Linked DNA regions of Homo sapiens. The protein of the gene in region 1 interacts with the protein of each later gene in a biochemical or structural test. Each region holds a gene or a part of one and is shown in the gene's direction. Other genes may lie near its edges. The genes, in order: LPIN1 and BTRC.

What was found.
Region 2: the proteins of LPIN1 (region 1) and BTRC form a complex in vitro, tested with the Homo sapiens proteins (one study listed by BioGRID).

What each region holds. Positions count from the first base shown.
Region 1 is NC_000002.12:11,819,592-11,823,409, forward strand, and holds part of LPIN1 (phosphatidate phosphatase LPIN1), read left to right. Parts: coding exon 1-7; exon of another isoform or gene 8-159; intron 160-819; coding exon 820-923; intron 924-3,818. UniProt on the Homo sapiens protein: Acts as a magnesium-dependent phosphatidate phosphatase enzyme which catalyzes the conversion of phosphatidic acid to diacylglycerol during triglyceride, phosphatidylcholine and phosphatidylethanolamine biosynthesis and therefore controls the metabolism of fatty acids at different levels.
Region 2 is NC_000010.11:101,360,616-101,364,433, forward strand, and holds part of BTRC (F-box/WD repeat-containing protein 1A), read left to right. Parts: intron 1-3,818. UniProt on the Homo sapiens protein: Substrate recognition component of a SCF (SKP1-CUL1-F-box protein) E3 ubiquitin-protein ligase complex which mediates the ubiquitination and subsequent proteasomal degradation of target proteins. Recognizes and binds to phosphorylated target proteins.

The sequences.
Region 1 (3,818 bases):
ACCAGCTGTAAGTAGTAGATTGGGTATAGAAGAACCCTTGAAATGACTGCCTTTTCTGGTTGCTGTCATCTGAAAGCCCTATCCGAGAACCATATGTAGAGTCAGATTCTCATCCCAGAAGCAGTAGCCTGGTGAAGAGCCACTTGCCCACATCTAAAGGCAAGGGGATTACAAATTATCTTATGGCTTCCAGGGTTCTTTGAAGGTTGGCGGGTGGGTCAAAGCTTGAGATATGGGACTTAAAACTCCAAATTTCAAATTACTCATTAAAGCAGTAAAGCAAGAACATTTAATCGGATTAGTTTCTTTCTACCAGAAGGGAACCGCAAAATCAGTCCTAACCATAATGGCGAATTCAGCATCTCACGTTTTAAGTGTCTAGTGTTGTCTCGTATCATGAAAGAAGCGCTTTGAGATTTTGCATGTATTGCCCGCATTTACTGGAAAGCTAAGTATTCTAGAGAATGTAGTTGGGTACTAACTGCTCCATCAGAAAGTCCTACTTTTGAAAGTTACGAGAGATTTTCATGAAGTAGGAATATGGGTCAAAGAATAACCTGAAGGAATGTTAGAATTGCGGGGACGTGGTAGGTTGTCTTTTCTTCAACTCAGTCCTTGAACAGATGAGGGAATTGAGGCCCAGAGAGCAAAACTAATTGAATAGTTTCCCATCAAAGGATATTCTTTCACTGCACCACTTTGAGGTAGAGCTCTGGTTAATGAAAATTTGATATCTCATCAAATCAGAAATACCATGGACTTGTTTTTACAATGAACTCTTTTCTAATGAACACTTTAAATCACCTTTACCAAATATAGGATGTGTATTCATACAAGCAAGTAGGAGTGTCTTTGAATAGAATATTTACCGTCAACCCTAAAGGAGAGCTGGTACAGGAACATGCAAAGACCAACATCTCTTCGTGAGTATTGTACACATTTTATGTGATTATGATATCAGTACTATTATCTTAAAACGGTGCTTCCCAGTTTGCGGTGTACCTTTTCCCCTTTGCTGCCTATATGTTAATCTGTAATTCTTATAATGAAAAAATGTATTTTAACTCCTTGTATTTTGTCCAAAACATAATTTTTAGACAACTGGAATTAAATCAGATCCCTTCTGGGTCTAAAATTTAAACTCGTGGTTAGAGTCTGCTACAGAATGGAATTGAATGAATTTGAAAACTAGTAGTTTAGATTTGCCAAGTTAGGTTTGAAAGCCTAGAATGTGAATGAGAAATATAACCAAACTGAAATATGTGAAGTTATATTTAAAGATGAGGAACTGTATATCTCTTCACATACCAAATGTTTCTTACCAGAGACATTGCTGTGTAATTGTTAAGAATTCCCTTCATATTTTTGGTCAAAGCCCAGTTTTTCTGAGTCGGTGGGCTAAATGGGATTACTCTTTCTAATGAGGCATCCTTGTGTGCTTAGAATCACTCTTGACTTTATCCTGTCCCCCTCGGGTTCCTAACTTATTAGGATGGAGAGCATTTCCTCATTCCATGTTGTTGGGAGGTTGGCCCACTGGGTGACATCAGCCCAGGCCGACCCTTGTCTTCCTGCCTTGTCCATTTCAGAGACTACACCTCTTCTGGTCTGGTCTGTGCAGACCTGGAAAAGAGCCTCTGGCAGGCCAGGCACGGTGGCTCATGCCTGTAATCCCAGCACTTTGGGAGGCTGAGGTGGGTGGATCACCTGAGGTCAGGAGTTCGAGACCAGCCTGACCAACATGGAGAAACCCCGTCTCTCCTAAAAATAGAAAAATTAGCCAGGTGTGGTGGTGCATGCCTGTAATCCCAGCTACTCAGGAGGCTGAGACAGGAGAATCACTTGAACTCGGGAGGCAGAGGTTGCTGTGAGCCCAGATCGTGCCATTGCACTCCAGCCTGGGCGACAGAGCTAGACTCTGTCTCAAAAAACAAAAGAGCCTCTGGCCTTAGTGGCCCCAGATAGCCCGAGGGGTTCCTCTTTATCTGGAGGAGTTAGACTGGGGGAGTTTGGTTCTAGGAGATTCCTAAGGATTGGTTTTCTCCATGTAGCTTCTGTGGTTTTAGATAGAGAGATAAGTTCTCTCTAGGGCAGATTTTTACTTTCAAGATGGTCCTTAAACTAGTTGGATTCTAACTGAGTGTCAATAGGGCAGTTCTAGGCTAACAGGAGTCCTGGGGCTGCCCCACAAGACTCCTCTCACCCTGCAGTCATGCCAGTACCCAAGCAGTCCTCAAGGTTTGTGCAGAGAGAGGGGAGGCTGGAGCCAAGGCCCTGTTCCCTCCTGCAGAAGGCGAGGCAGTGCCAGGCTGCTTCCTGATTGGCAGAAAAACAGCAGGAACTTGATTCCTTTCTTAACCCTTCCTTGCGGTTTCTGCCACCTCCACTGTTCTAAGTGGCTGACTGTGACAATGTCTCGTTCCCACTCCCCTCTCATTCCCCAGGCTGGAGAGGACCTACTGGGTTTCTATTTAGGATCTGTGTTATAGTCTGTTTTCATGCTGTTAATAAAGACATGGACCCAAGGCTGGGTAATTTATACAGGAGAAAGGATTTAGGCTGGGCACGATGGCTCATGCCTATAATCCCAGCACTTTGGGAGGCCGAGGTGGGTGGATCACCTGAGGTCAGGAGTTCAAGACCAGCCTGACCAACATGGTGAAACCCTGTCTCTACTAGAAATGCCAAAAAAAAAAAAAAAAAAAAAAAATTAGCCAGGCATGGCAGCTTGCACCTGTAATCCAACTACTTGGAAGGCTAAGGCAGAAGAATCACTTGAACCCAGGAGACGGAGGTTGCAGTGAGCCAAGATCATGCCACTGCCCTCCAGCCTGGGTGACAGAGTGAGACTCCATCTAAAAAAAAAAAAATTAAAAAAAAAAGGGGAGACCTCACAATCATGGTCAAAGGAGGCAAGGAGGATCAAGTCATGTCTTACATGGATGGCAGCAGGCAGAAAGAGAGCTCGTGCAGGGAAACTCCCCCTTATAAAACCATCAGATCTCATGCGACTTTATCACAGGGACAGCATGGGAAAGACCTGCCTCCATGATTCAGTTAACTTCCACTGAGTCCCTCCCACAACACGTGGGAATTCAAGATGAGATTTGGGTGGGGACACAGCCAAACCATATCAGGATCAAAAAGAACTTTGAACCAATGAGACGCTGTCCAGGAATGGGAAAGTGGCAGGTCTTGCCATGCACGCATGGAAAGAGGGACTCCAGCATCTGAGAGGGTTTGGCTAGGTGGCCTCTGCGGTCATTGCATTGACTGAGGCTCTAGGGTTAAAATGCACACCTCGCCCATGGCTTGGCCTAGGGTGGAGCTCTGCAGACTTTACTCATTGCCAGGGGATGTTGACATTTTACACCTGGACTGGAGGCGGGGTTGTTCCTGTGAGAGAGTAAATCTCCTCCCCCAGGAAGCTCACATTTCTCTGGCGCTGAACTTGGTATAGCTATTTCTGAGCCAAGTAGATGCTTGTCATTCAGAACTGGGACAGTCATCTGAAATGTCTTCAGAGGCTGGGGCCACACAGCGGGAGCAGCTCAGTTCTTTTTCCCTTTCGTTTGCGAGTGTCTGTGCGTAAGCTCTGCCTGCTTGGGAGGAGCACTGTGTGTGGAGGTCGGTCTGGGGGAGGCGCGCAGATGGAACTCGGCCTGGCCGCTCAGGGAGTGTGAGAGTGGGTTTGGTTCCAGTGCACCGCGGCCTTGTAGTCAAGCCTGCAGGGAGGGGCCCTGCTGCCGCAGCCACAAACCTCAGACAAATAAGCCTTAAAGCCGGGAGGTATTTTAAAAATCTGTCTGTTTGTTTGA
Region 2 (3,818 bases), on another chromosome or scaffold:
CCGCCTCGGCCTCCCAAAGTGCTGGGATTATAGGCATTAGCTACCGCGTCTGGCCTCTAGAGATGGGATCTTGCTTGCTCTGTTGCCAGGTTGGCCTTGAACTCAGGCTAGGGTTAAGTGATCTTTGTGCCTCGGCCTCTCCAGTAGCTGGGACTACAGGTGCGTGCCACCACTCGCAGCCTAAAATACTTTTTAAATCTCACCTACTTTCTAGCAGTATTTTATTTTATTTGGGCGCAGCTCTGCCATCAGTAGGCTGAGCTCCCTGCAGCCTCAAACTCCTGGGCTGAAGCAATGCCTCTGCCTCAGCCTCCTGAGTAGCTGGGACTACAGGTTTGTGCCACCACACCTGGCTATATTTTTATTTTTTTGTAGAGATGGGGTCTTGCTGTGTTGCCCAGGCTGGTCTGGAACTCCTGGCCTCAAGTTATTCTCCTGCATCAGCCTTCCAAATTGCTGGGATTACAGGCTTGAGCCACCATGCCCAGCTTTAGCAATTTTTTTTTTTTGAGACGGAGTCTCGCTCTATTGCCCAAGCTGGAGTGCAGTGGTGCGATCTCAGCTCACTGCAACCTCAGCTTCCTGGGTTCAAACAGTTCTCCTGCCTCAGCCTCCCAAATAGCTGGGATTACAGGCACGTGTCACCACACCTGGCTAATTTTTTGTATTTTTAGTAGAGATGGGGTTTCACCGTGTTAGCCAGGATGGTCTCGATCTCCTGACCTTGTGATCCAACCGCCTCAGCCTCCCTAAGTGCTGGGATTACAGGCATGTGCCACCGCACCTGGCCAGCAATATTTTAATATAGCACAGAAGTCCTTTCTAAATGTGTATAGTGAGAATCCATTGAGGATGAAATAGAAAATATTTACCAAAGTTTAACAACTTAGTCAATAAAAATAAAACTTTCTCTTTCCGTAATAAGTCAATCTCAGCATTCTAAAATAGGCAATGGAGGGGGGAAGAAATCTCTATGGGAAGGGTCCACTGGATCTTAACAGTTTCAACTAGTGTTCCACAATATTTCTGCTGTACTTGGGGAGAATTTCTGGATAATTAGAATAGTCTGAGGCTTATTCCTTTTAGTTTCCCATAGCCTGATTGAGATAGAGCTATAAGACCAGCTATAACATTGTACAGAAGACTCAGAGATAAACAAGTGAAAAAGATAACTGAGATTAATGTTGAACTAAGAATATGATTGTTCTCTGAGGCACTACCTGCTAGTTCCTGGATTACCTTTATATGTGGCCAAGGTGGGGATTGGGAAGCAAGGGAGCAAAAGCCCTAGAGCTAAGGGAGAGAGAATTTCTGCCTGCCTAAGATGAACCTTCTGAGTTGGATATTTTTTTTTCTTCCCCCTTGAGACGGAGTCTCACTCTGTCGCCAGACTGGAGTGCAGTGGCATGATCTCAGCTCACTGCAACCCCCGACTCCCTGGTTCAAATGATTTTCCTGCCTCAGCCTCCCGAGTAGCTGGGATTACAGGCACGTACCACCACACCCAGCTCATTTTTGTGTTTTTAGTAGGGATGGGGTTTCACCATGTTGGCCAGGACAGTCTCGATCTCCTCCTTGTGATTCGCCCGCCTTGGCCTCCCAAAGTGCTGGGATTACAGCTGTGAGCCACCGTGCCCGGCCTTGAGTTGGAATTTCTTTCTAAAGTCTTGCTCCTTTCTGTAGTTTGGCTTTCCTTTCAGGGTATCTGATTTTGCCTTCCTGCTCCTAGGCTTGTGACCTGACCTGATGCTGTCAATTACAGGAGAATGCAGAGGTGCAAGAAATTTTTTTTTTTTTGAGATGGAGTTTCGCTCTTGTTGCCCAGGTTGGGGTGCAATGGCACAATCTCGGCTCACAGCAACCTCCGCCTCCCGGGTTCAAGCTATTCTCCTGCCTCAGCCTCCCGAGTAGCTGGGATTACAGGCATGCGGCACCACACCCAGCTAATTTTGTATTTTTAGTAGAGACGGAGTTTTTCCATGTTGGTCAGGCTGGTCTTGAACTCCCGACCTTAGGTGATCCGCCCGCCTCTGCCTCCCAAAGTGCTGGGATTACAGGTGTGAGCCACCACGCCCGGCCAGAAGAAATTTTTTGTGTTTTGTTAATACAGTCAGCCACGAATAGCTAACAGCTAACAGCTGGTCCCTCATATTTGTGGGTTCCATATCTGCTAATTCAACCATTGATTGAAAATATTCAGAAAAAGAGACCACAATAAAAAATAACAATATAACAATAAAAGTGGGAATTAAAAACAATACGTATAACAACTACTTACATAACATTTACATTGCATTATTATATGTAATCTAGAGATGATTTGAAATATATGGGAGGATGTGTGTAGGTTATGTGCCGTTTAAGGCACTATAAGAGACTTTTGAGTATCTGTGGATTTTGGTATCCGATGGGAGGATCCTGGAACCAGTTCCCTGCAGCTATGGAGGTTTGACTATAATTATTTAGCATGTACTATTTGCTGTTCTAAATATACTGTTCTAAGCTCTTTATATATATTATTTCATTTAATCCTCCCAGTAATCCTGTGAGATAGATTCAGTATTATTATTATCCCCATTTCTCATTTAAGGAAAATTATTCCAGAGAGGTTAAGTAACTTGCTCAAAGTCATGCTAGCAGGTATCCTGAGATTAAATCCAGGCAGTCTGACTTGAGAGCCTTACTTACGTGCAGTATACTTCCTCTTTGAAGAGCAGGAAAACTGTGGGATATGGTGGCATGTTTCCTTAATATCTGTTAAGGCACACTTTGGTAAATGCTAAAATAGAAGCACAAAGTGCTATAGAATTTAAGGGAGGGGAAGTTCGTTTTTGTTTTTGTTTTTGTTTTTTCTTTTTTTTGAGATGGAGTCTTACTCTGTCACCCAGGCTGGAGTGCAGTAGCGCAATCTCAGCTCACTGCCACCTCCACCTCCCGGGTTCAAGTGATTCTCCTGCCTCAGCCTCCCGAGTAGCTGGGACTACAGGTGTGCACCACCACGCCCGGCTAAGTTTTGTATTTTTTAGTAGTGCTGGGATTACAGGTGTGAGCCACTGTGCCTGGCCGGGAAGTTCGTTTTAACTGAAGAGCTCTTTAGCAGCTTTGTAGAAGAAAGCTTCATATTAGATCTTGATGAATAGATAGATTTTGACAGATATCTCTCTGAGGTAGGCAGTCAAGCGGTGGCCAGAGTGGAAGAATTACTGTCCAGATTTACATATAGGTTTCCTGATTATTTAAATTACCGATGAAGTGCAGTAAGACTCTACTGTTGTCACAGTATCATTTCAGTTAGCTATTGGCGTTTAGAATCACAAAATACCAGCATCTTACAGTGATAGGTATTTATTCTCTTGAAATTGTGGGTTTGCTGGGTAGTGGATGATCTAAACTTGGCTTACTCAAAGTCAAAAGCCCAAAGTCAAGCAGGGCAGGGAGTAACTTGCACAATACTATAGTGACAGTAATCTACTGCAGTGATCTAGTACAGTTGATTTAGAGAAGAATGGTAAGATGCTTATTATGACAACTATTGTGCTTTCTTCTTTCTGCTCTCTATTGTTGACACTCTCCTGATAGCACTTTTTCATTTTGGTTGCTGAATAATACCTGTTGATTGGATACTCCTAGAATCATAATGTAATACAGCAGATTTCTTCTCTTCATGTTATGTAGAAAAAAAGCATAAAGAAATAATCAGAATCTTGACTATTCCACAGTGATGCCCTGAAAAGTTCAGCAATATCATGGTGCTATTCTTCTATCTTTGGGACTGATAAGCTTGATGTCACTGGAATGGCATTTGTAACAGAATTTGA